Linked DNA regions of Homo sapiens. The protein of the gene in region 2 purifies or fractionates together with the protein of the main gene of each other region. This does not show direct contact. Each region holds a gene or a part of one and is shown on either strand. Other genes may lie near its edges. The genes, in order: SQOR, HAUS2, ACSF3, TRIOBP, PRRC2C, SDE2 and NEMF.

Evidence for each region.
Region 1: the proteins of HAUS2 (region 2) and SQOR purify together in Homo sapiens (affinity purification with mass spectrometry; one large-scale study listed by BioGRID and IntAct). This does not show direct contact.
Region 3: the proteins of HAUS2 (region 2) and ACSF3 purify together in Homo sapiens (affinity purification with mass spectrometry; one large-scale study listed by BioGRID and IntAct). This does not show direct contact.
Region 4: the proteins of HAUS2 (region 2) and TRIOBP purify together in Homo sapiens (affinity purification with mass spectrometry; one large-scale study listed by BioGRID and IntAct). This does not show direct contact.
Region 5: the proteins of HAUS2 (region 2) and PRRC2C purify together in Homo sapiens (affinity purification with mass spectrometry, with the first as the bait; one large-scale study listed by BioGRID). This does not show direct contact.
Region 6: the proteins of HAUS2 (region 2) and SDE2 purify together in Homo sapiens (affinity purification with mass spectrometry, with the first as the bait; one large-scale study listed by BioGRID). This does not show direct contact.
Region 7: the proteins of HAUS2 (region 2) and NEMF purify together in Homo sapiens (affinity purification with mass spectrometry; one large-scale study listed by BioGRID and IntAct). This does not show direct contact.

Annotation. Positions count from the first base shown.
Region 1 is NC_000015.10:45,676,529-45,680,028, forward strand, and holds part of SQOR (sulfide:quinone oxidoreductase, mitochondrial), read left to right. Parts: intron 1-3,500. UniProt on the Homo sapiens protein: Catalyzes the oxidation of hydrogen sulfide with the help of a quinone, such as ubiquinone-10, giving rise to thiosulfate and ultimately to sulfane (molecular sulfur) atoms.
Region 2 is NC_000015.10:42,555,338-42,558,837, forward strand, and holds part of HAUS2 (HAUS augmin-like complex subunit 2), read left to right. Parts: intron 1-2,860; coding exon 2,861-2,953; intron 2,954-3,500.
Region 3 is NC_000016.10:89,114,352-89,117,851, forward strand, and holds part of ACSF3 (malonate--CoA ligase ACSF3, mitochondrial isoform 1 precursor), read left to right. Parts: coding exon 1-136; intron 137-2,638; exon of another isoform or gene 2,639-2,735; intron 2,736-3,500. UniProt on the Homo sapiens protein: Catalyzes the initial reaction in intramitochondrial fatty acid synthesis, by activating malonate and methylmalonate, but not acetate, into their respective CoA thioester. May have some preference toward very-long-chain substrates.
Region 4 is NC_000022.11:37,700,048-37,703,547, forward strand, and holds part of TRIOBP (TRIO and F-actin-binding protein), read left to right. Parts: intron 1-1,258; 5' UTR 1,259-1,318; coding exon 1,319-1,432; intron 1,433-3,500.
Region 5 is NC_000001.11:171,492,030-171,495,529, forward strand, and holds part of PRRC2C (protein PRRC2C), read left to right. Parts: intron 1-3,500. UniProt on the Homo sapiens protein: Required for efficient formation of stress granules.
Region 6 is NC_000001.11:225,996,544-226,000,641, reverse strand, and holds the start of SDE2 (splicing regulator SDE2), read left to right. Parts: upstream 1-1,298; 5' UTR 1,299-1,329; coding exon 1,330-1,449; intron 1,450-4,098. UniProt on the Homo sapiens protein: Inhibits translesion DNA synthesis by preventing monoubiquitination of PCNA, this is necessary to counteract damage due to ultraviolet light-induced replication stress.
Region 7 is NC_000014.9:49,793,789-49,797,288, reverse strand, and holds part of NEMF (ribosome quality control complex subunit NEMF), read left to right. Parts: intron 1-960; exon of another isoform or gene 961-1,056; intron 1,057-1,344; coding exon 1,345-1,498; intron 1,499-3,500. UniProt on the Homo sapiens protein: Key component of the ribosome quality control complex (RQC), a ribosome-associated complex that mediates the extraction of incompletely synthesized nascent chains from stalled ribosomes as well as their ubiquitin-mediated proteasomal degradation.

The DNA.
Region 1 (3,500 bases), 3.1 Mb from region 2:
GTTAGCTGGTGCCAAGTGAATTTTTGTCCTATTCCTTTGACTCAACTTTTCCTGGCATCGAGTCACTTGAGGTAGCCAAAAATATTCCACAACTTTGGTTACTGTGTAGAGGTAAGGGAGGGCTTCCTCGAATGCAAGATCTGGTGATTGTCTCAATTGGTGGCATGTGAGAAACAGTCCTGCTTGTGAGCAGGAAGTAACCCTGTGGGTAGTTGAAGAAAACAGGGATTGGCTGGGCATGGTGGCTCACGCCTGTAATCCCAGCACTTTGGAAGGCCAAGGCAGGTGGATCACTTGAGGTCAGGAGTTCGAGACCAGGCTGGCCAACATGGTGAAGCCCCATCTCTACTAAAAATACAAAAATTAGCTGGGCGTGGTGGCACATCCCTGTAATCCCAGCTACCCGGGAGGCTGAGGCAGGAGAATCGCTGGAACCCAGAAGGCGGAGGCTGCAGTGAGCCGAGATTGTACCACTGCACTCCAGCCTGGGTGACAGAGTGAGACTCCGTCTAAAAAAAAAAAAAAAAAGAAATAATCTCAAACTTAGAGAAGTTACAAAATAAAAATAGTACAAAGAAAATTGTATGTAGCTTTTACCTAGATTCACTTGTAGAATTTTACCATTTGCTTTAGCTTTATCATTTGATTTCTTCCTTCCTTCCTTCCTTCCTTCTTTCCTTTCTTTCTTTCTCTCTTTCTTCTATCTGCCTTTGTCTATCTATCTATCCATCCATATCTAGTTTTTCCAAGGAAATTTACATATATCATGCATCAGCTCTCTTTAGCCCCAAATACTTTAGTGTTAATTTTCTAAAATAGAAGTGTTCTCTTACATAACCACAGTACCATTATCAACTCAGGAAATTTAGCACAGATACAATTTTTTAACTTACTATTTGTATTCCAATTTAGTTGATTGGCCCAACTGTGTTTGTAGCATTTTTTCCTCCAGTGCAGGACTCAGGCTACAGTCAGGTATTACATTCAATTGTGAGGTCTATTTAGCCTCCTTTAATCTGTGATGTTTCTATAGCTTTTCTTTGTCTTCTATGACGTTGATATTTTGAAATAATACAGCCCTCTCCCCCACCACTTTTCTTTCAGTAGAATGTTCCTCATTTTGAGTTTGTCAGTGTTTTCTTGTGATTAGTTTCAGGCTTTGATATGTATTTATTTATTTATTTATTTTTGAGACGAAGTCTCGCTGTGTTACCCAGGCTGGAGTGCAGTGGTGCAATCTCAGCTCACTGCAGCCTCTGCTTCCCAGGTTCAAGCGATTCTCTTGCCTCAGCTTCATGAGTAGCTGGGACTACAGGTGTGCACCACCATGCCCGGCTAATTTTTTTATTTTTTATTTTTAGTAGCGGCGAGGTTTCACCATGTTGGCCAGGCTGGTCTCGAACTGCTGACCTCAAGCCATCCACCTGCTCGGCCTCCTGAAGTGCTGGGATTACAGGCATGAGCCATCGCACCTGGCCTCAGGCTCTGTTTGTTAGACTGGAACATTGCATAAGCATTGTGCCATTCTAAGGTATCACATTTGCAAGCATACAGTGTTCATCTGCCCTTCATTGGTGATGTTAATTTTGATCAGCAGTCAAGATGTGGTCCAGTTTTTCCAGGGGATAATTACAATTTGTTTTCTCCCTTGCTACTAATAAGAAGTCTGTGGGAAGACACTTTAAAACCATGTAAATAGTCTACTCATTCAAGTCTCCCCACTAGAGTTAGCATCCATTGATGATCCTTGCCTAATCAAATCTTTACTATGGTGGTTGCAAAATGGTGATTTGCTAACTGTGACATTTCCTGCACATTTACCAGTAAGCTCTTGGCATTCTTTCAGCGAGAGTCTTTGCTTCTTAGTTAATTAACTATTGGTATGAACTCATGAGTTCCTATATTTTTTCTTACAGTGTTATCATTCATTATTGTTTTTAATTATTATGGTGCTCAAATTGTTTTGGATTTGGTCAGTAGATTTCCCTTCCAGCTGGCTCTTGTGTCCCTGTGACATGCCCCATCATGTGTTTGAGCACTTCCTTTACTTTCTGGTGTCACAGGTTGTCCCAGGCTCATCTAGTATCTATCTGCAGCAGCTCAGGGTCATCATTTTGAATAGCTCCTGTGTAGTTATGCACACAGAGGCTACTGGAATGTTTGGAGCTAGTTATCACTTTATAAAAGGGTCTCAAATTACTGCTGTTTGTTTTTTGTGTGTCCTTTTTGTAGTTTTCCTTTTTCCTGGCTGTCAGGCCGTTGTTAGTGACTTTGGGAGGTCCCTCCAGCTTTAGCTTTTTTAAATTGCTGCTCCTCAAATGGCCTCACTCAAATGGGCTATGAGTGAGAGCTCATATGAGTGAACTCATTTTTACTTTACAAAAGAGCCCATTTGAGAGAGTCCGTTTGAGTGAGCCCAAGTTGGGCTTTCACTAAAATGAGCTATGAGTAAGAGCCCGAAGCATCCTTTTATGAGCAAAGTGTATGAACTTGAGTGCATGAACTTAACTTTGTTAGTACTTCGTTTCCCAGCTGTCCTCTGGATAGCTGAGGTTGTAGGTAGGGGTGTGGATAAATGAATGGTTATTATTCTTCTAAGGGGTTTGTAATTAAAGAAGATATTTGTGTCCCCTTTGAATTATAGGATTTCAGGTCAGATATTTAGTTCCACTCTTAAAATCTGAATTTCAAAAAATCCACCAGAAGGATGTAAAGCTGTGGCTCTTAACCCTGGCTACATATTAGGGAGCTTTTAAAATGTGCTGATGCCTGGCCTCTTTATAAGAGGTTTTAATTAATTGGTTTGGGGTGCAGATTGAGGATGGGGAGTTTCAAAAATTCCCCTAATGACTAATGTTCAACCAGGATTGAAAACAACTGGTGTGAAGAATTGGGCCGGACGTGGTGGCTCAAGTCTATAATCCCAGCACTTTGGGAGGCCGAGGCGGGTGGATCACGAAGTCAGGAGTTTGAGACCTGCCTGGCCAAGATGGTGAAACCTGTATCTACTGAAAATACAAAAATTAGCCGGGCATGGTGGCAGGAGCCTGTAATCCCAGCTACTTGGGAGGCTGAGGCAGAGAATTGCTTGAACCTGGGAGGCGGAGGAACTAGAAGACACTTTGGAGATTGTCTAGTCTAGTGCATTTCTTTATGGATAAGCAAACTAAAGACCAAAGAGATGAAGTGACTTGTCCAAATAATAGCATTCTATTTTTCTTTGTAAATGAACCTGTTCCTTCAAGCCAGAGATTGTAAGCATGTGATCCACAGATTTTACATATCAGAATCACTAGCAGATTTTAAAGTACAGATTCCCGTGCTTTACCCAGATCTACTAGATTGGGATCTTGGCATGGTGTAGCCTGGGAACCTGTATTTTCCACAAGTCTCCCCAATGCTGCTAATAAACATTAAAGTTTGAAAACCACCACACTGATTGGACTATGTATGTTAATGAAGGAGGACCAAGTTATTTATCCTATACAGTTACAGAAATA
Region 2 (3,500 bases):
CAGGCTGGTCTCAAACTCCTGGGCTCAAGCAGTTCTCCTGCTTTAGCCTTCCAGAGTGCTGGGATTACAGGTGTGAGCCATCATGCCAGCCTGTATTTCTAAATAAGTATTATGTATGATTATATTACTTCTTCACCAGAAAATGTTCAGTTGCTCCCATTTTCTGCAGTATGATTGTTGAGCATAGCACTCAGGATCATCTATGATTATGTTGGAGACTATGTTTTCAGCTACATCTTACCCCTCTTTTCACATATATGCTAACACTGGTGGTTATTGAGCATTTGTAATGTTTTTGATCTTTCTATCTAGAATACCTTTTTCTTCCCATCCATTATGAGCCTCATGAGGGTAGAGAGCTTGTTTCACTCATATTTGAATATTTCGTTGACTAACTCAGTAAGTGTTCATAAAATTGATTATTTTTGGACAGTAAACTTTTACTATGAAGAGCCAGAGAGTAAATATGTAAGGCTTTGTGGGCCATATGGTTGCAGCTACACAACTAGGTGGTTGTATAAAAGCAGCCAGAGATAGTGTGTAAATGGATGAGAGAAGTCATGTTCCAATAAAACTTTATTTCTGGACCATGAAATTTGAATTTCAGATCATTTTCTTTTCTTTTTTAAGACGGAGTTTCGCTCTGTCACCCAGGCTGGAGTGCAGTGGCGCGATCTCGGCTCACTGCAACCTCTGCCTCCCAGGTTCAAGCAATTCTCCTGCCTCAGCCTCCCAAACTAGCTGACTAGCTGGGATTACAGGCGCCTGCCACCACGCCTGGCTAATTTTTTTTTTTTTTTTTTGAATAGAGACAGAGTTTCACCATGTTGGCCAGGCTGGTCTCAAACTCCTGACCTCAGGTAATCCACTTGCCATGGCCTCCCAAAATGTTGGGATTACAGGTGTGAGCCACTGCGCCCAGGCTTTTTTTTTTTTTTTTTTTTTTTGAGACAGGGTCTCACTCTGTCGCCCAGACTAGAGTGCAGTGGCAATCTCAGCTCACCACAACCTTGTCTCCTAAGCTCAAGCAATTCTCCTGCCTCAGCCTCCCGAGTAGCTGGGATTACAGGTGTGCACCACTCCTGCCTGGCTAATTTTTGTATTTTTAGTAGAGACGGGGTTTCACCATGTTGTCCAGGCTGGTCTTGAACTCCTGACCTCAAATGATCTACCCACCTCGGCCTCCAAAGTTCGGGATTACGGGCATGAGCCACTGTGCCCAGCCTGTTATAAAATATTGTCTTTGATTTTCTTTTTCCCAACAATTTGAAAATATAAAAACCATGCCTGGTTCACAGGCTGTACAAAAACAGGTAATGGGCTGCATTTATTTCATGGACTATAGTTTTCCAGTCCCTGGCCTATCTGATCTCTAAAGTTCTTTGGCCTGGACGCGGTGGCTCACGCCTGTAATCTGGGCACTCTGGGAGGCTGAGGCGGGTGGATCACCTGAGGTCAGCAGTTCTAGACCAGCCAGGCCAACATGGTGAAACCCCAACTGTACTAAAAATACAAAAAAAAAAAAAAAAATTAGCTGGGCATGGTGGCAGTAATCCCAAAAACTCCCAGCTACTTGGGAAGCTGTAATCCCAGCTATTTGGGAAGCTAAGGCAGGAGAATCAGTTGAATGCAAGAGGCAGAGGTTGCAGTGAGCAGAGATGTTGCCATTGTGCTCCAGCCTGGGTGACAAGAGCGAAACTCAGTCGGTGGCTCACGCCTGTAATCGCAGCATTTTGGGAGGCCTAGGTGGGCAGATCATGAGGTCAGGAGATCGAGACCATCCTGGCTAACACAGTGAAACCCCGTCTCTACTAAAAAATACAAAAAAATTAGCCGGGCATGGTGGTGGGCGCCTGTAGTCCCAGCTACTCGGGAGGCTGAGGCAGGAGAATGGCATGAACCCAGGAGGCAGAGCTTGCAGTGAGCCGAGATTGCACCACTGCACTCCAACCTGTGCGACAGAGTGAGACTCCATTTAAAAATATATATATTATATATAATATATATTTTATATATAATATATATTTTATATATATTATATATTTTATATATAATATATATTTTATATATACATTATATAATGTATACATTGTATATAATGTATATTATATATAATATATACATTGTATATAATGTATATTATATATAATATATACATTGTATATAATGTATATATTATATATATATGAAGTTCTTTGCTGTGCTAGCATTCTAGAAAGCAAGATGATAGAGAAAATTATGGATGAAGTCTAGGAATGCACAAGATAATACTCAATTCTGAGATAATGTGCATGGACTCATGGAATGAAAGGATGAAAAAGAAGGGGTAACCTTTTTAAAAGAATAATTATGCCTGGATACAAATAATCCTTTAACTAAAAGATGAGAATGTGAACATACACAGTATGAATGACTTGTAGGCAACTGAGGTCATTTAACGAATCAGATAAATAATTCCATGAAGGCGAAAATATTTGATTTCAACCCCGGAAGCTCTGAGAGACTGGGCCTGAGTCATTTGGAAAGGTAGAGGTGATTCTCCAACAAATTTAGCCTTTGAATCCTTTGATAAACTATCAGTAATACAAATCTATTTTGTATGGTACCTTAGGAAATAATACAAAGGGAGTGTGTTGTTTGTTTCTCTTATTTTTTTTTTAAATATTTGAGCAAGTGATTTGTGATGGTGAAGGTTCTAAAACAGGAATTACACATTGCTACTATTTTACTTTGTACTTCATGTTCAAAGGCAGTGTTGAACATAATATTTTCTCATATTTTAGACTATGGGCATGCTATTCCAATGTACCTAGAAACTTTTTGTGACATTCTGCTACTTTCCTTATTCATTTACCAATAGGAGATGTTAAACATGTCTAAGAAAACAGTTTCTTGTTTTGTGAACTTCACCAGACTACAGCAGATCACAAATATTCAAGCTGAAATCTACCAGGTAAATCATTTTGTTTTCACTTTCTTTTTTTTTTTTTTTTTTTTTTTTGAGACGGAGTCTTGCTCTGTCACGCAGGCTGGAGGCTGGAGTGCAGTGGCACAATCTCGGCTCACTGCAAACTCCGCCTCCCAGGTTCACGCCGTTCTTCTGCCTCAGCCTCATGAGTAGGTGGGACTACAGGCGCCCGCCACCATGCCCGGCTAATTTTTTGTACTTTTAGTAGAGATGGGGTTTCACCATGTTAGCCAGGATGGTCTCGATCTCCTGACCCCATGATCTGCCCGCCTCGGCCTCCCAAAGTGCTGGGATTACAGGTGTGAGCCACTGCGCCCGGCCTGAACTTTTCACTTTCTACTCCTAGTATAGGAAAACAAAAACAAAAGTTGGCCAGATGTAGTGGCTCACACCTATAATCCTCGCACTTTGGGAGGCCAAGGTGGGAGGACTGCTTGAGCCCAGGAGTTTGAGACCAGTGTGGGCAACACAGGGAGATCCCGTCTCTACAAAAAATTTTAAAAGTAACCAGACATGGTGGCACACACCTGTA
Region 3 (3,500 bases), on a different chromosome or scaffold from region 2:
GGCTCAGCTGCCCTGCCCCTCCCAGTGCTGGAGAAGTGGAAGAACATCACGGGCCACACCCTGCTGGAGCGGTATGGCATGACCGAGATCGGCATGGCTCTGTCCGGGCCCCTGACCACTGCCGTGCGCCTGCCAGGTACGAGCACTTCCCACAGCTGCGTTCCTCTTCCACTGTGCTCTGAGCCCCCCAAGGTGGGCCAGTCTCGAACCACCCACATTCGGACTGAAGGGCGGCATGGAGGATGCTCCCCCGTGGGACAGGCCACTCGGCCAGGAGAGCACTCAGGATGCACTGCGACCTGTCCCCTCTGGGTAGATCAGCCTTCTCCCAAGTCTCAGTCGGGTGGATGGGGGAGGTGTCTGTGCTGGCCCCTGGCTGTATGACTGGGGAGACAATGGGAAGAACAGCAATGCCTGGAATGCAGGCGTCAGTGCATGTCTCAGAGGAAGGCGGGGGGCCATGCTGTTGGCTCCAGACCACATCAGCAGTGGTGGCAGCCTCCGTCTGTCTGGAGTCCGGGTGCCACACAGCGCCAGCAGCAGTGCCAGGAGAGGTGGGTGTGGTGGGCAGGGTGGGATGAGTCAAGCACCTGTCTTCCTTCTCTAGATGTGGGCTCCTGATACCGGGCCCCTCTTGTCCAGCCTTCCCTAACACATCCCATTCTGACTTTCATCTGACCCAACCATTTGAGCCCTGGGTCCTCCGCTGGGACTTCTGGGAACAGAGCCCACAGCTGGGGGGCCACCCTGCTGCTTTCTGCGCAGCCCTTCCAGTCTGTCTAGAGTAGAAGAGAGATCTCAGTGCAGACTTAAAGTGAGACCATCCCGCACATCTGTCTGTGCAGCTGCTTACCTGCAGACCCAGTAAAAATTCACCCCTCTGGCGTGCAGCTCTGTGTGTCTTAAGAAACATCATCACAGTCAAAATAGAGAAGGGTTCCTCGCCTCAGAAACTCCCTTCCTAGTGCTCAGCACCTCCTCCACCCCCGAGGCCTGGCCCCTTGTTCCTGTTTCTCTTCTTGTGGTTTTGCTTTTTCTGGGAGGCCACGTGGCTAAATCCTGCAGGACGTGGCCTCTGAGCCTGTCTGCTTCCGCCCGGCTTCCGCCCACAGTCAACTGCCTGTGCTGTGTGCGTCAGAGCCCGCGCCTTTCCCTGCTGAGTGGCATCCGTGGTGTGGGTGCGGCACCGCTTGTGACCCTGTTTTAAGCAATGACACGTGAGATGTTATCAACATTTGTGTGCAGGTTTCTGTGCGAACGTGGTTTTTTATTTCACCTGGGCAGATACCTAGGAGAGAGATTGCTGTGTTGTCTGAAGCTTTCAAGCTGTTCTCCAGAGCGGCTACACCATCCCCTTCCCCCTGCAATGGGTGGGAGGTCACGAGCACCTGCTGCTCCAGCGGGCGGTGGTGGTGTCTCGTTGAGTTCATGATTCTCTCATGATGGGTGGCGTTGAGCACCTCTTCCTGTTCGTGTCATTCCGTTTTCAACTGGGGCCTTTGTTTTCTTGAGTTTTGAGAGCTTTTAAAATTCGGGACCCAAGTGTCAGCTGTGCGATTTTAAATATCATCTCCCAGCTTGTGGTTTGTCTTCCCATTCACCTAACAGCGTCTTTAAAATCAGGAGTTTTAGGTTTTGGCCCGGTTTATCAATTTGTTTTGTGAATTGTCTGATGTCATATCTAATAAATCCTTGCGTAGCCCAAAGTCACAGAGAATAGTTTCAGCTCTTACGTTTGGGACCATGATCCATTTTGAGTTAATGTTTGTACATAGTGCGAGATACGGACCACAGTTCTTTTTTAGTGTGTGAATGTCTAACTTTTTAGCACTGTTCGTTGAAAAGACTCCCTTCTCCATCGAACAGCCCTTTGGATCTTTGTTGAAAGTCCGTCGACTCCTGAGGGGTCGGCTCCTGGGCTCTGCTCTGTCCCATTGCTTTCCGTGTGCCCTTTGGCTCATTCCATGCCTGCTTGGTTCCTGGGACTCTAGGGTAAGCGTGGACATGGGGGTTCAGGCCCAGGCAGGGACCAGCTGGTGCCAGGCAGCGATACGGTGCTGGGGCCTGCAAGGTGAGTGTGAGGGCTGGCTGGCTGCTGGGCTGGGAGGAGGAGAGACTGTAGGCTCACGCCCCTTTGCTGGGCCTGGGGAGCCATGGGGGCTGTTAAGTGTATTCTGAGTGTAAAGTCTCGGTTTGGCTGGGGCATCCTGAGCAGAATGACAGGGCCATGGCAGCGAGATCCTCAGCTGCCGTGCAGAGCTGCCAGTGGGGTGGCCGCACAGAGTGCAGTGCCTGCTGCAACAGTGCCCAGGGCAGTGGGCGGGTGGGGGCATGTTGTGAAAAGAAGTCAGTGTGAGTGATGAGAAATACATCCTAGTCTCAGACCCCAGGAAACCGCCGTCAGTGCTGGTGGCCCCTGCCCTGGGCCGGCTCCCGCGTTAGTCTCAGACCCCAGGAAACCTCCACCTCCGTCAGTGCTAGCGGCCCCTGCTCTGGGCTGACTCGCGCATCTCCACGATGGCTGCGGCACCAGCTGTTTCTTCGGTGGCTAAAGCTCTCTGGTGGAAATAAGATGGGGACCTTGAAATCAAATGTGACTGGTCTGTTGAGTCTCTGTCCTTATCGTTGTCCTTCTTAGTAGGATGTGCTGGTTTTGTCCAGTGCCACCGGCCACAGTCACCACGTAATATGGACGGAATGAGCAAAGCCCGGCTCGCTGAGGCTGCAGGCTGCAGGCAAGTGAGGACTGAAAGGGTAACGGGCTCTGGGCTTTGTCCTCTCTTTGTTCCGGACATGTGAGCAGGACAAGTTCTGTGTATTCAGAATCTGTCTGCACAGTTTGTAGTTCATGATGACTGTTCATCCACAGCATTGCTTTGTGGGCGTCCTCTCTTTTGATCTTCTCGAAACAGCCCCTGCGATGGGGTCATATTTTGCACTCACATACAAGAACCCATGAGCCTGCCCACGGTCACGCGGCTGGTGAGTGATGCACTTCCCAGGAGCACGGTGACCTCTTCAATGGCCCTCACTAGAGAAGATGGACAGTGCCCCCCTAGCCTTTTTTACTGGAACAGATACAAGGCTGAGAAGCTGAAATCAGGAGCAGCCCAGGGACCACTGTCTACACCGAGGGAGTCATGAGCAGCCCAGGGACCACTGTCTACACCCAGGGAGTCAGGAGCAGCCCGGGGACTGCTGTCTACACCGAGGATGTCAGGAGCAGCCCAGGGACCACTGTCTACACTGAGAGCGTCAGGAGCAGCCCAGGGACCGCCGTCCACACCAAGAGCGCCAAGGAGCAGCCCAGGGACCGCCGTCCACACCGAGGGCGCCAAGGAGCAGATAGTAGCCCAGAGACCCAGGGGAGGCTCAGCTTCCCCACGCTGGAATCAGAACTCCTAGGCGAACAGGAAGGAGCCCCAGACAGATGGCACAGGGAGAGGAGTCCCCGGCTGAGGAGGGGGATCCAGAGACCCTGAAGCTTCAGGGTTATTGGG
Region 4 (3,500 bases), on a different chromosome or scaffold from region 2:
TTTGTATTTAGTAGAGGCGGGGTTTCACCATGTTGGCCAGGCTGGTCTTGAACTCCTGGCCTCAAGTGATCTGCCTGCCTCAGCCTCCCAAAGTGCTGGGATTACAGGCGTGAGCCACCGCCCTCGGCTGGAATCACTTCTTTAACATGCACAGCCCCAGACCTCAGTCTCTTGGAGATTCTAACTGTGTGAATTGGGAGAGAGAAAGGGGAATCTAGATTTTTTTTTTTTTTTTTTGAGATGTGGTCTTGCTATGTTGCCTAGGCTGGAGTGCTGTAACTATTCACAGGTGCAGTTATAGCACACTACCACCTCAAACTCCTGGGCTCAAGAGATCCTCCCACCTCTGCCTCCCGAGTAGCTTGGACTGCAGGTGCACACCATCTTACCCAGCTGAAATCTGCTTTTTTTTTTTCTCAGTGCAGTGGCACAGTCATGGCTCACTGCAGCCTCGACCTCCCAGACTCAGGTGATCCTCCCAACTTCAGCCTCCTGAGTAGCAGGGACCACAGGCCTGCACCACCTTGCCCAGCTAATTTTTGTATTTTTTGTAGAGACGGAGTTTCGCCAGTTGCCCAGGATGGTCTTGAACTCTTGGGCTCAAATGATCCGCCGCCCGCAATGGGCCCAGCTGGAATCTGCATTTTTTTGTTTTTTGTTTTGAGATGAAGTCTCACTCTGTCGCCCAGGCTGGAGTGCAATGGCGCAATCTTGGCTCACTGCAACCTCCGCCTCCTGGGTTCAAGCCATTCTCCTGCCTCAGGCTCCCAAGTAGCTGGGATTACAGGCACGTGCCATCACACTTGGCTGATTTTTGTATTTTTAGTAGAGACAGGGTTTTACCATATTGGCCAGGCTGGTCTCGAACTCCTGACCTCAAGTGATCGGCCCACCTCGGCCTCCCAAAGTGCTGGGATTACAGGCATCAGCCACTGTGCCTGGCCTGGTATCTGCATTTTTATGAACAGCCCAGGAGGGTGTAATGCAGAGTCCTTGGCGTGCACTTTCAGCAACACTGCAGTAAGGACTAGAAATCGCACATCAAATGCTGGCAGAGTGCCTGGTGCTTAGTAGGTGCTTAGTGAGTGTTTGTTGAGTGAATAAATGAACAGGAATGGATGGAGAACAGGAACCCAAAGGAATGGATGAGTAACCTTATTTCCTTGGTCCTTGTCTGGAAACTGGGGCAACTGGGGCTGGGGTTCAGGTGAGTGGCCAGCCAGTCATCTGGTCTTTGCCTCCCCCTCATTTTTGCCAGGCCTCACATAGACGGTCAGCCATTGGATCATAGGAACTGCCCTGGCCTGACTCACCCAATATGGAGGAGGTGCCTGGGGATGCCCTGTGTGAACACTTTGAGGCCAACATACTTACCCAGAACCGCTGTCAAAACTGCTTCCACCCTGAGGAGGCCCATGGAGCAAGATACCAGGTGGGCCAGTTTTCCACGTGGTTGGGGTGGTTTGTGATGGGGGCATGGGTGAAGGACTGGGCCTGTGGTGTCCGCTAACTCGCAGTTGAACCCAGATGCTGGACTTCCTCCTGTCGAGAGCCTCGGTTTTCCCACATTGCAGGGAAGTGGTTGAACCATGTGAATGTTTCACAATCTTCAGTCACTTTCCTCCTGCTTATATGATACGATTGTTACCATAGCCTTATCTAATCTGTTACTTACTTTGTTATTCTTTAAATCAACATCTTTTTCCCCTTCTATTGAAACAAAACTTCACATCATCAACACAAGTAGAAAACTAGAATTACTTCCTGTTAAGAAGAAGAGGTTAAGAAGAAAGGTAGAGGCTGGGCACGGTGGCTCACGCCTGTAATCCCAGCACTTTGGGAGGCCGAGGTGGGTGGATCACCCGAGGTCGGGAGTTTGAAACCAGCCTGGCCAACATGGTGAAAATTAGCTGGGCATGGTGGTGCATGCCTGTAATCCCAGCTACTTGGGAGGCTGAGGCAGGAGAATCACTTGAACCTGGGAGGCGGAGATTGTGGTGAGCCGAGATCGCGCCATTGCACTCCAGCCTGGGCAACAGAATGAAACTGTCTCAAAAAACAAAACAAAACAAAACAAAAAAGAGAAGAAAGGTAGAAAAAGAAAAAACAAAACAGAAATGTCGTTACACCCTAACTTGAGAGTGTTTTCTTTTTCTTTTTCTTTTTTTTGAGACAGAGTCTCACTCTGTCGCCTGGGCTAGAGTGCAATGGCAATGGTGTGATCTCAGCTCACTGCAATCTCTGCCTCCTAGGTTCAAGCGATCCTCCCGCCTCAGCCTCCCAAGTATTGGGATTACAGGTGCCTGCCACCATGCCCAGCTAATTTTTGTATTTTTAGTAGAAACGGGGTTTCGCCATATTGGCCAGGCTGGTCTTAAACTCCTGACCTCAGGTGATCCACCCGCCTCAGCCTCCCAAAGTGTTGGGATTACAGGCGTGAGCCACCGCGCCTGGCCTCGAGAGTGTTTTCTATGGAAGGCTCTGAGCTTGCATCCTGCTGTCTCTTTGTCAAAAAGGGAGATTAGCAGATGTTAGAGAGATGTTAAGAATACACCAGCATCATCTAGAGATTTTCTTTCTCTCTCTCTTTTTTTTTTTTTTTTTTTTTTTTGGAGATAGGGTCTTGCTCTGTAGCACAGGCTGGAGTGCAGTGGTCCAACCTATAGTACATGGCTCACTGTAGCCTCGACCTCCCAGGCTCAAATGATCTTCCCACCTTGGCCTCCTGAGTAGCAGGGACTACAGGCACATGCCACCATGGCCAGCTAATTTTCTTGTAAAGATGGGATCTCACTATGTTGCCAGGGCTGGTCTCAAATTCCTGGGCTCAGGTGATCCTCCCACCTCAACCTCTGTAACTGCAGGGATTACAGGTGTGAGACACTGCACCTGGTCTCAAGATTTTCTTCTTCAAGTTATTGAAGGAGTGAAGAAGAATCCTTTTTTTTCTTTCTTTTTTTTTCATTTGAGACGGAGTCTCTCTCTGTCGCCAGGCTAGAGTTCAGTGGCTCAATCTCAGCTCACTGCAACCTCCGTCTCCTGGGTTCAAGCAATTCTCCTGCCTCAGCCTCCTGAGTACCTGGGATTACAGGTGCCCACCACCATGCCCAGCTAATTTTTGTATCTTTAGTAGAGACAGGGTTTCACCATGTTGGTCAGTCTGGTCTCGAACTCCTGACCTTGTGATCTGTCTGCCTCGGCTTCCCAAAGTGCTGGGATTACAGGTGTGAGCCACCGCGCCTGGCCGAGATTTTCTTCTTCAAGTTATTGAAGGAGTGAAGAAGAGTCCTTTTCTGACTTTGTGATTGATGTAGTCTGCTGCCAAGCCCCCATGCATGTAAACACAGAGCACCTGATACACACGCAATGAGAAACCTGGGACTCACGAACCTCCGAGGGCCCTTCCAACCTTGACCACCATGGCTTCGTCATTCCCATTGGGGTCTGAAGGTCCTCTTTTTTTTTTTTTTTTTTTGAGACAGAGTCTCGTTCTGTTGCCC
Region 5 (3,500 bases), on a different chromosome or scaffold from region 2:
TTTTGAAAACAGAGGACATTGAAAACAAAGGAGGCTTTAGACAGGTGAATTTTAAGTTTATATTTGGAAATTTGATTTGTGGTGTACAGTTCTTTAAGTTTTAGTACGTATGGATTTTTGTAGCCCCCACAACTAGGATACAGAATGTAGAAAGATAAAACATCTCCCAACTGTAGAACTAGAGTCTTCTGGCATTTTGGAGACAGGGAAATTCTCTTGAAGAAATAACTATTAAAGAGGGATGGAAAAAGCCAAGAATGGCCTACCCATGCTGAATGATTTGTTTTCTGATTAGAAAGAAAAAATATTTTGATTATACTGTTATATTTATGACAAACTTGAACATAGAAAGAATGAAAGTAGGAGAAAGAAAAAGAAGGAGTTGGGTGTTGTGGCATGTGCCTGTGGTCTTAGCTACTTGGAAGGCTGAGGTGGAAGGATCTCTTGAGCCCAGGAGTTGTGGAGGGTAGCGCACTGTGTTCTACATATGGACTGAGTGTCTGCACTAAATTCAGCATCAATAGGGTGTCCTGGGAGTGGGGGACTAACAGGTTGCCTGAGGAGGGGTGAACTGGTCCAGGTTGGCAACAGAGCAGGTTAAAACTCCCATGCTGATCAGTAGTGGGATAGCCATTGCACTCCGGCCTGGACAACATTAAGGTGACCCTGTTTCTTATTAAAAGCAAGAGGGTAGGGGAATTTTTTTAATTTTATTTATTTATTTATTTATTTATTTATTTAGAGACAGAGTCTCTCTCTGTCGCCCAGGCTGGAGGCAGTGGTGCGATCTTGGCTCACTGCAACCTCTGCCTCCCAGGTTCAAGCAATTCTTCTGCCTCAGCAGCCCGAGTAGCTGGGATTACAGGTGTGTACCAGCACACCTGGCTAATCTTTGTATTTTTAGTAGAGATGGGGTTTCACCGTGTTGGCCAGGCTGGTCCTGAACTGACCTCAAATGATCCACCTGCCTCGCCCTCCCAAAGTGCTGGGATTACAAGGCGTGAGCCACTGCGCCTGGCCGGGGAATTTAAATAAAATAAAATAAAATAATAAAAGAAGAGAAGGAAGGAAATAGGTTTACATGTCTTAAGACTGGATATTTCAGTGGTAGAAGAAGAGGGCCAATGATACGGAGGGATGTTAACCAATTCTCTACACTTAATAAATTTAAAATTAATATTCTGACTTTTAAAGGCAACCCTTTGGTCCTCCAAAAGATTAACCATAATTCATAATGCTAGATGAGCATCTTGGAGCAAGTACTTCTCTTTCACTCTCATAACATTCAACATACTTTGGCCTTGCAAAAAACAAAGTTCAATTAACTGGATGGGGTGGCATGTACTTGTAGTCCTAGCTCCTCAGAAGGGTGAGGTAGGAGGATCACTTGAGCTCAAGTTCAGGGTTGCAAAGTGATGGCACTGCTGCACTCCAGCATGGGTGACAGAGTAAAACTGTTGAAAAGGAAAATAATAAATAAAGGTTGACTAAGAAATTATCTATGCTTTGGGCCTGAAGCGATGGCTCACCCTGTAATCCCAGCACTTTGGGAGGCCAAGGTGGGTGGATTACTTGAGGTCAGGAATTTGACACCAGCCTGGCCAACATGGTGAAACCCCATCTCTACTAAAAATACAAAAATTAGTCAGTTGTGGTGGCAGGCGCCTGTAACCCCAGCTACTCAGGAGGCTGAGGCTGGAGAATTGCTTGAGCCTGGGAGGCGGAGATCCTACCACTGCACTCTAGCCTGGGCAACAGAGCAAGACTCTGTCTCAAAAAAAAAGAGAAGAAATTATCTATGCTTGGGTTTTTCTTTTTAATATATTAGTTTTGCAAATATTGATTACCACTTAATAAGTTTTTGTTACAGGCTTTACACTATTCTAAGAGCTTTATACACACTTTGTTAATTAAATCTTATAATAGTATTGGAGTAGATATTATAGCCCACCCAGGTGAGGAAGTAAAAAATTTGAGATTAAGTAATTTGCCTGTGGTCACCTAGCTACTAAATATTAGAGCTAGAATTTAAACAAAAACAGTTTTAAGAGAAACAGTTGTGTAATTTTAACAATTTTAAAATACATAAGTTGTTAAAAAGAATGCCCTGGCAATCACCTCATTAAGTAATCGGTAGACAGAACAGCTGTACTTTTTAAGGACAGCAGTTTTTAGTACAGAAAATTTGATAGCTACATTTCTGTTCTGATTGTTAAGGCTTTATCCTACTCCGGAAACTTAATTCACATGTTTCAGTTTCCAGGAACAGCCTGAGCCCTTCCACTATCCTGATTAGAACTCCAGCAGATTTATTTATATTACACTTTGTTTTTTAAAAAATGACCATTTTGGATGTTTTTGCCGAACTGCTATTTGTAGTAAAAGAATTCAACATATGGTGGTATTCTTAGCTTTACTATTATAGTGGCAAATGTACTCTTAAAATATTTGACCTTAGAATTACTAGTTCATTTTAACTACTAGAAATGGAAGAGACCTTGTAAGTGGCCAATTCAACTTCTTACTCAAAGCAAGAATTATCTTTATAATATTTCTGACAGGCTTACCTTGCTTTTGCTTGGATCCATCTGATGATTAGTAGGTTACTACAGTCACCCCTTAACATTCACAAAGCATATGTCCTAAGATCTTACAAATTTCCGTATTTAGCATTCAAACCTCTTCACTTTCGCCTTCCGTGATCTACACTAGGATTTGGCCTCCTCTTCACTGCTCTTCCCCACCCTGCCCCCCTCCCTCAAGAAAGAAACAGATTTCTCTTTGTAAGAGTTATTGTATCCCCTAAAAGAAAACAAAGCTCTGGGCCTGGGGTCTCAGCATTAGGAGTGGTGAGGGATATCCAAGCTTATTTTCTAGATGCATACCTCATGGCATGTTAGTTACATTTTGTGCTTTAGCAAAATTACACGTCATTTCACAGCTCTTTGGGTTATTTGGCAAATTGTTAAAGTAATGCTATAAGTTTTAGTTTAATGTAACTTACTCACTTATGGATAAACTGAACAGTTTTTCCTTTGCATTCAGTCGTTTGTTAATGTTTGTCTTCATGAAGCCTGGAGTTGAGCATAATACTCTAAACATACTGTGACAAACATAAAATTCAGTGGAACTGTTATGACTCCAAATCTGTGCATTAGATTTCTATTAAAATTTTATAAAGCAGTATTGTCACACTACTAGCTGTCACAGCTAGAACCTTTTTCACATGACAGTCTGGGTCTGTATTCTGCATTTATGAAATCCAGTTTCTGAACTGTTAATATGACTGTATAACTAATTGTTTAATTCTGCCTAGCATTCTAAGACCTTTAAAAATCTTGGTCATGGAATACATTGGTACTCCTTCAGATGTATATATTATTTCATATGCCATGTTTACTTTCCAAGTCTTTATTCAAGTTATTGACATGGAAAAGGACAGGGTCCAACATATCCAGGCCAAATTATTTCATATTGACCACATTCTTTTAAATATAAAA
Region 6 (4,098 bases), on a different chromosome or scaffold from region 2:
AACTCCTGACCTCGAGATCCGCCCGCCTCAGTCTCCCAAAGTGCTGGATTACAGGCATGAGCCACCGCGCCCGGCCAGTACAATCTATCTTTATTATTTTTTTTTTTGTAATTTTTATTTATCTACTGGCATCCCCATGGAGGCCCTTTCTCTCCCCAACTTTCCCTCGTGTGTGAAATAAAGACCACTGAATCTATTAACTTCCCAGGCCTTGAAATTCCATTTTCGCACATACTGCCACCGCTAAACGATTTCTGAATTTTTTGTTGTTACCCCCTCAGCTAGGAGTTCCATTTGCCAAGCATTTTAACAGCAGAGAAGGCAATTCTGTGGGCCGATGCATTTGTGTTTAGCAGGCACAGATATCTCCAAATAACCTTCCTATCTTCACACTGGTGGCTTTTGAATTGTTCAGGGTTTTAGAAATACCATAATCTCATTCTGTTAAATATTAAGGGACTCTTTCGGATTCCCTGAGCCTTAAGGTTACGTTATGCAAATCTGTCCGAGTGTGTTTCCATGGTGCAGAATAAAAGTTATGGTAGGGTTTTTTGAAGCAGCATGACTATAAACGTCACTCCTGTCACTGCCTTTCACAAGAGCCCACTTGCTGTGAAATATTTTGAAAACAGAGCTGAAGTGGAGATAACGCAGTGCACAAACAGGCGGAAATAAGAATAAACCGTGCGTGGCAGGCAGAAACCCGGAGGTTGGCTGTTTCTGGAGGGGAAGAGAAGGCTCTGTAAAGCTGGAGGAGAAACCACGCCGGCCACTGTTTAGGGGCCTCCTGGGGGTCGTTTCCCTTGCCCCCTCGGGTTGGGGAGCTCCTCTAGGCCAAGGAAGCGGCCCCCTAAAACCGCTTCCGGGACTGCAGCTTCTCTCCCCACACTCTCAAGGAGCAGAGCCTTCTCGGGCCACAATTCTCCGCGACCCAAAAATAACTACACAGATGTGAGGAAAAGGGCCAAAGCCTACAGCACAAGGTGGTTCTCAGTTAAAGCCTTATCGCTTACGGCCAGGAAGCTCGAAACCTAACCCAGCGCCAGCCTTTTATAGCCGGTCCCTCGAGCCCCGCCCTAGCAACTTCTCCTAGCAACGCCTCGCCCCGTGCTCTGCCGCCTTATCTGCCTCCGCCAGGCCTTTCCTGTTCCCCTCCCCCAGCCCGCACCGCCCCGCCGCCCGGCTCACTTGACCCGCCCCAGGGGAGGGGAGGGGTGAACGGAAGCGTGAGGGGCGGGGCGTTGGAAGATGCTCGCGTCATCAAGAGGCGCCGGGCGAGTTGCGGCGCCTGGTGTCTCAGAGAGGCTTGAGGTTCGGGTAGTCGGTGACATGGCGGAGGCCGCGGCGCTGGTGTGGATTCGCGGCCCTGGCTTCGGGTGCAAGGCGGTGCGGTGTGCCTCGGGTCGGTGCACCGTCCGGGATTTTATCCACCGGCACTGCCAAGATCAGGTGAGGATTTCGGTTCCTGTTAGGAAGGAGAAAGAGGCAGACAGGTGGCAGCGCTGGGTGCGGAGTAGGTCTGTCCGGGGCGGGGGTACGTTTATTCTCTGGGGTTTTCACTCGTTGAGGCTGAGAGTTCCTCAGTGTTAAGGTGCTTCGAATTGTTACTGAGACCTTCCTTTGCTTTTCTTTTGTGGTGGTGGTTTTGCCTTCCCACCAAGAGGGAGAAAAAAACTGTTACAGGCACTTAGTCCCGCTCACAGTTACAAATACTTTGTTTCTCTTTCTTTATCCGTAAATATAATGGTCTTCTGGCAGTTGGGCCGGCTGATTTTTAAGGCTCCAGTCTTCACCTTCTTACTATGGTTATGTGACGTGTATTTTGTCCACTCATCACACAGCCTTGTTAGCCCCAGCCTAGAGAAGTATGTCATATCCAAACCCAGGCCAAAGGATGATTGGGAAGGAAAATTGATTCTTCTGGTCAGTCGTTGTGACCAAGCATTCACACGTGTGTCCTGTTGAGGGCCTGGGTTCTTAGGGCCTGTTACGTAGAAGTGTTCACTATTAATTTGATGGTCTCATTTGTCCGTGCATATTTGTGAAAACCTACCAGGGACTTCCAGAGTTACACGTGAGCTTTTACTGAACTTTCAAGTAAGTAAGCTTTTACCAGCTATAAGATATTAAACCTGTTCAGTTGTCAAAAGAATTTAGTGGTTTCCCTGAATCTAATTTTAATGTTGGCACTTGATCTAGAACTCTGTTCTTTCCGCACCTCATCCGTGCTTTCCTCGGCTATTTCCTCTGCTTACTATTTATAAGCTTAACAAATGTTAACACTGCAGTCTAGACCAAAATTTTAAGAGACTTGGATCGATTCCGTGAAGAAGCAATGTGTGTTTGCAAATAATACGGTTTTTCACTTTCCATGTTTTCCTTCCTGCTCTGTAATCCAGTCTAAAAACTGTAAGCACAACTGTTTTTGACCATGAAAATAATTGCATTCTAATTCCTTTGAAAATAATTCTTATTTCATGAGTACAGTGTTCTTTTCTCCCCCTCCCCCACCCCCGACGGAGTTTGACTCCCGTTGCCCGGGCTGGAGTGCAATGGCGTGATCTCGGCCCACTGCAACCTCCGCCTCGCTGAGTTCAAGCGGTTCTCCTGCCTCAGCCTCCCAAATAGCTGGGATTGCAGTCGCCCGCCACCATGCCTGGCTAATTTTTGTATTTTTAGTAGAGACGGGGTTTCACCACGTTGGCCAGGTCTTGAACTCCTGACCTCGGGTGATCCGCCCACCTCAGCCTCACAAAGTGCTGGGATTACAGGCTTGAGCCACTCCTCCCGGCCTATGAGTACAGTTTTCAAACTTGCTGACAATTGATCCAAAGTGAAACCAGAAAAAATAGGATCTTAATCATGAGGTATGTTGGAAAAAAGAATTTTTAAATCGGAAGCAAGAAATATAGGCCAGGCGTGGTGGCTCACGCCTGTAATTCCAACACTTAGGGAGGTCGAGGCGGGCAGATCACCTGAGGTCAGAAGTTCGAGACCAGCTTGGCAACATGGTGAAACCCCATCTCTCCTAAAAATACACAAAAATTAGCCAGGCGTGGCGGCAGACGCCTGTAATCCCAGCTACCCAGGAGGCTGAAGCAGAAGAATCATTTGAACCTGAGAGGTGGAGGTTGCAGTGAGCCGAGATTGAGCCATTGCACTCCAAACTGGGTGACAGAGCAAGACTCGGTCTGAAAAAGTATATATAAAGAAATATAAATGAGTGGATTCAGTCAGAAACTTAAGGAACATGACCATAGCAAATATGAATAGAAACACAAAAGAATATTAGTTGAGATACTGGAACAAGTAAGAATAGCTCAAGTTCACACCTATGTTTTTAAAAACAAAACTATTCTGAGACATGATGAAGTTAGTGTTAACTCCCACTGAGAAAATAAAAATCTGCCCTGCTTTTCATCAGGCTGGGATAACAGACACAGATAAAGCCAGCTGCAAAGTTTTTGTTTTTTGTTTTTGTTTCCCCCACACTACACCGATGTACAGCTGCAGAGTTAACAGGAAATGGTGATGTGTCATAATGTCATAACGACCCCCACGAAGGTCTGCTGCTTTCTTATTCACTGAGAAACCTTGGTCTCAAAAACCATAGAATATATAAGAAATTTTGCTGTTTAAAGTTCTCTCAATAAGAGGGAACCTTCCCACTCTTGCCTTGTAGAGAAGCATTCTTGATTTCCAACCCAGGTCAGAGCTTCCCATTAAGGGTTTCTGGACACAACTTTCCACATTTATCTTAAATTTGTAGTTTCCAAGGAAAGAGGAGCCTTCACAATCCAGATCTGATGTTGACGTTTTTATATACAGTCCTGCTTTATTTTGAACCTTTTTAAACACTGCTTGATGTAAATTTCACCTCAACTCCACCCTAGCCCCAAATCTTGTAATGACACTCCTTTCTTTGGGTTGGTGAGATACCCATGACTCCTGGTGTGCAGTTCCCCTCGTTGCAGTGAATCAGTAAGTTTGACAGGTTTATCTCTGATAGCCTTAGGCTGGTTGTGCTAAAACACACATGATAATTTGTGTTTGAAGCACTTTACAATGCACAAATGGTTAAAAGCAGTTAAATTGAGT
Region 7 (3,500 bases), on a different chromosome or scaffold from region 2:
AGGGAAGGGAACAACTACTGTAGGGTGGGAAAGACTAAGCAAACTAAAGCACTCCAGGAAGAGGCCCTAGAACAGAATGGACAATAAAGCCTTTTCATTTGAGAAACATAATCATTGAACAATTACAGAGAATTCTGAGCACATAGCCCTGTGCTAGATACTTACTGAGTATACAAAGAGGTGAAGTATAAAGCTCATGCCTTCAAGAAGCTTTTGAGTCCTGGATTCAGGAAGTAGTCATAAATATGTAAATAGTGTCTGAAAGTGATAAAGTAGTTCAAGAGTAAGAGATTGCTGTGAGTTCAGATGTTTGGGGAAATAACATCAGAAGTATACCTTGAAAGATATGTTAGCAGTTAAGTAAATGAAGGAGGGAGACTCCAAGGAGAATTAGCATTAACAAAGGGGAGTGCTTCTTTGGGGTAATATGCATAGTGCTTTGGGGAAATGATAAATAGACTGAGTTGGAAGGAAGAGAAAGTTTGTGTATTAAATGGTAGATAATATGATTGGAGAAGTAAATTTGGACTAAAAGTGGAGTACTTAAAAGCTAAGGATTTTGGACTATACCCTTTAAAGTGATACGAAGAGAATGTGACATAGGCAAATGATTAAGGAAGATTAATATAGAAGTTAATGGCCGGATGTGGTGGCTCACGCCTATAATCCCAGCACTTTGGGAGGCCAAGGCGAATAGATCACCTGAGGTCAGAAGTTTGAGACCAGCCTGACCAACATGGTGAAACCCCATATCTACTAAAAATACAAAGTTAACTGGGTGTGGTGGCACAAACTCCGTTTTAAAAAAAAAAAATTCAGAGTATGTAGACTCTGGAGGAAGTCTGGGTGGGATGTAATGAGGACCTGAACTAAGACGTTGGCATTGGGAACAGAAAGAAGAATACCACAGTAATAAAATTTACCCTTCCTTCTTAACCTGTGTATTTTTAATCCATTTAGTCAACCAACCGGTCAACAGATGTTTTATTGAATGCCTAAGACCTGCCAATGCTATGTTGGTACAAAGACTACAAATCCCAGTGCCTGGCCATCAAGGTGATCAGGGGCAAAATGTGCCTAGTGAGTAAGGATGAGTCAGGGGTGACAATATGTTGAGCTTGGATGATGGAAAGAAAGATAAATCCATGAGAGATGAAAAACTTGCATCTTTTTCCCACATGATGATTTTAAGCATCTTTGTATTTTCTAACTTGGTGATTATCAAGTGAAGCAGAAGCCATGACCATTTATATACTGTATATGTGCCTTCCCCATGGAACTTTTTTAGGGCACTAAGAATTTCAAATTCTAAGAATGAAATGTTTTCATGTCTTTTTTATTCAGGGAAATGAAAAAGAAAAAACTTCCAAGTGACTCAGGAGATTTAGAAGCGTTAGAGGGAAAGGATAAAGAAAAAGAAAGTACTGTACACATTGAAACTCATCAGAACACAAGCAAAAATGTTGCGGCTGTGCAGCCAATGAAACGAGGACAAAAGGTAAACTTCAGGATGATCTATATGGTTCACAGTTAATTTGTGAGGTTCCTTTTTAATTTTTTAAAGTTGAAGTGAAATAGAAAATGTAGGCCAAAAAATAATCCTGTGTGATTTCCTTTGACTAAAAATTAGTTGAGTAGATACAGCATTTAGGGAACACAGAGATCACTATTAGAAGTTCTTTAGACTTTCAAGATCATCTGCACAGAAGCTCTCATTTTATCTGGAAGAGTAATAGGAGATTATGGCTTGCCAAAGTCACCCAGCTAGTTAAGTAGCAGAGCTGATATTTATTGAGAATTTAGCTCAGTAATTTTTAGATTTTGGTTAGAGTTCTTAGATATTTTGCTAAAGGTGGATGGTGAAGAAAGAAGTACTTATGATAGAACATACTCTTTCCACACTGCCCCTGCCCCCACCTCCCCACCCCCCAACCCCGCTGTCAGCTCCCCCAAGATAGTCTTGCTCTGTCACCCACGCTGGAATGCAGTGGTGCAGTCAGGGCTCACTGCACTAGCCTTAACTCCTAGGCTCAAGTGATCCTCCCATCTCAGTCTTCCAAGTAGCTGGGACCGCACAGGTGCATGCCACCATGCTCAGCTAAATTTTTTTATTTTTTGTAACGATGGGGTCTAACTATATTGTCTGGGCTGGTCTCAAACTCCCAGGCTCAAGTGATCTTCCTGCCTCACCCTCCCAAAGTGCTTGTAACTAGAGGTGTGTTAGCCACCATGTCTGGTTATGATATAATACACTCTTCAAAATGCTGTAGCAGCCAGGCACAGTGGCTCATGCGTGTAATCTCAGCACTTTGGGAGGCTGAGGCAGGTGGATCACTTGAGGCCAGGAGTTCAAGACCAGCCTATCCAACATGGTGAACCCTATCTCTACTAAATATAGAAAAATTAGCCAGGCATGGTGGTACATGCCTATAGTCCCAGCTACTCGAGAGGCTGAGGCAGAAGAATTGCTTGAACCCAGGAGGCGGAGGTTGCAGTGAGCCAAGATCACGCCACTGCACCGCAGCCTGGGTGACATGGCGAGACTCGCCTGTCTCAAAAAAAAAAAAAAAGCTGTAGCAGTATAAAAATGAGGGGATTATGGGCTAATTTATCAGTGTACCCCTTTTAAAATTTAAATTTCTTTTCAATTTTTTTTTTTTTTTTTTTTTAGAGACAGGGTCTTGCTCTGTTGCCCAGGCTGGAGTGTAGTGGCTATTTACAGGCATGTTTGTAGCATACTACAGCTTTGAACTCCTGGGCTCACGCATTCCTCCTACCTCAGCCTCCTAAGTAGCTGGGACCACAAGTGCATGCCACCACACTAGGCTATAATCTTTATAAAGATGTTTTATGATCTTTCCTTCTTCCATACAGGTCAGATTTTCCTATGCTTTTTTCCAGTGAGCTGCAAATGACATGTGCATAAGGAAGGGAAGACTCAACCTAATAAAAATATAAATTCCCCTCATATGTAAATTCAACATGACTTTAATCAGAATTGAGATTTTAATGCTTGATAAAATAATTGTAAATTTATTTTGGAAGGAGTAATGCTTGAGAATAGCTAAGGAAATAAGGAGGGATTTCCCTATGAGGTAGTAAAATATTTAATGCTAGAATTTTTACAACAGCATGTTATTAACATAGGAATAGCTAGACAGAAAAAAATGAGACAGAATAAAATCTAGACAGAGGACCACTACCTGATATTTAGCATTTTAGTACGTGATAAAATAATATTGTAGATCATTTGAGAAGATATGAAATATTCAAAATGATGGCTAACCATGTGAAAACGGTACCACAGTGAATTGCAGGTGGAGAAAGTAAAGAACCACCAGTAAAATTAAAAAACAAATGACAAATCTGGAAAAAAAAAAAAGTGATGACAGAAATGCTGTGTAAACCTGGGGAATTTTTTTTACCCATCAAATTAATAGATACTACATTGTCAGTTTGAGTGTACAACATGGGAATTCCAGTCAAAAGTCTTAACAGTG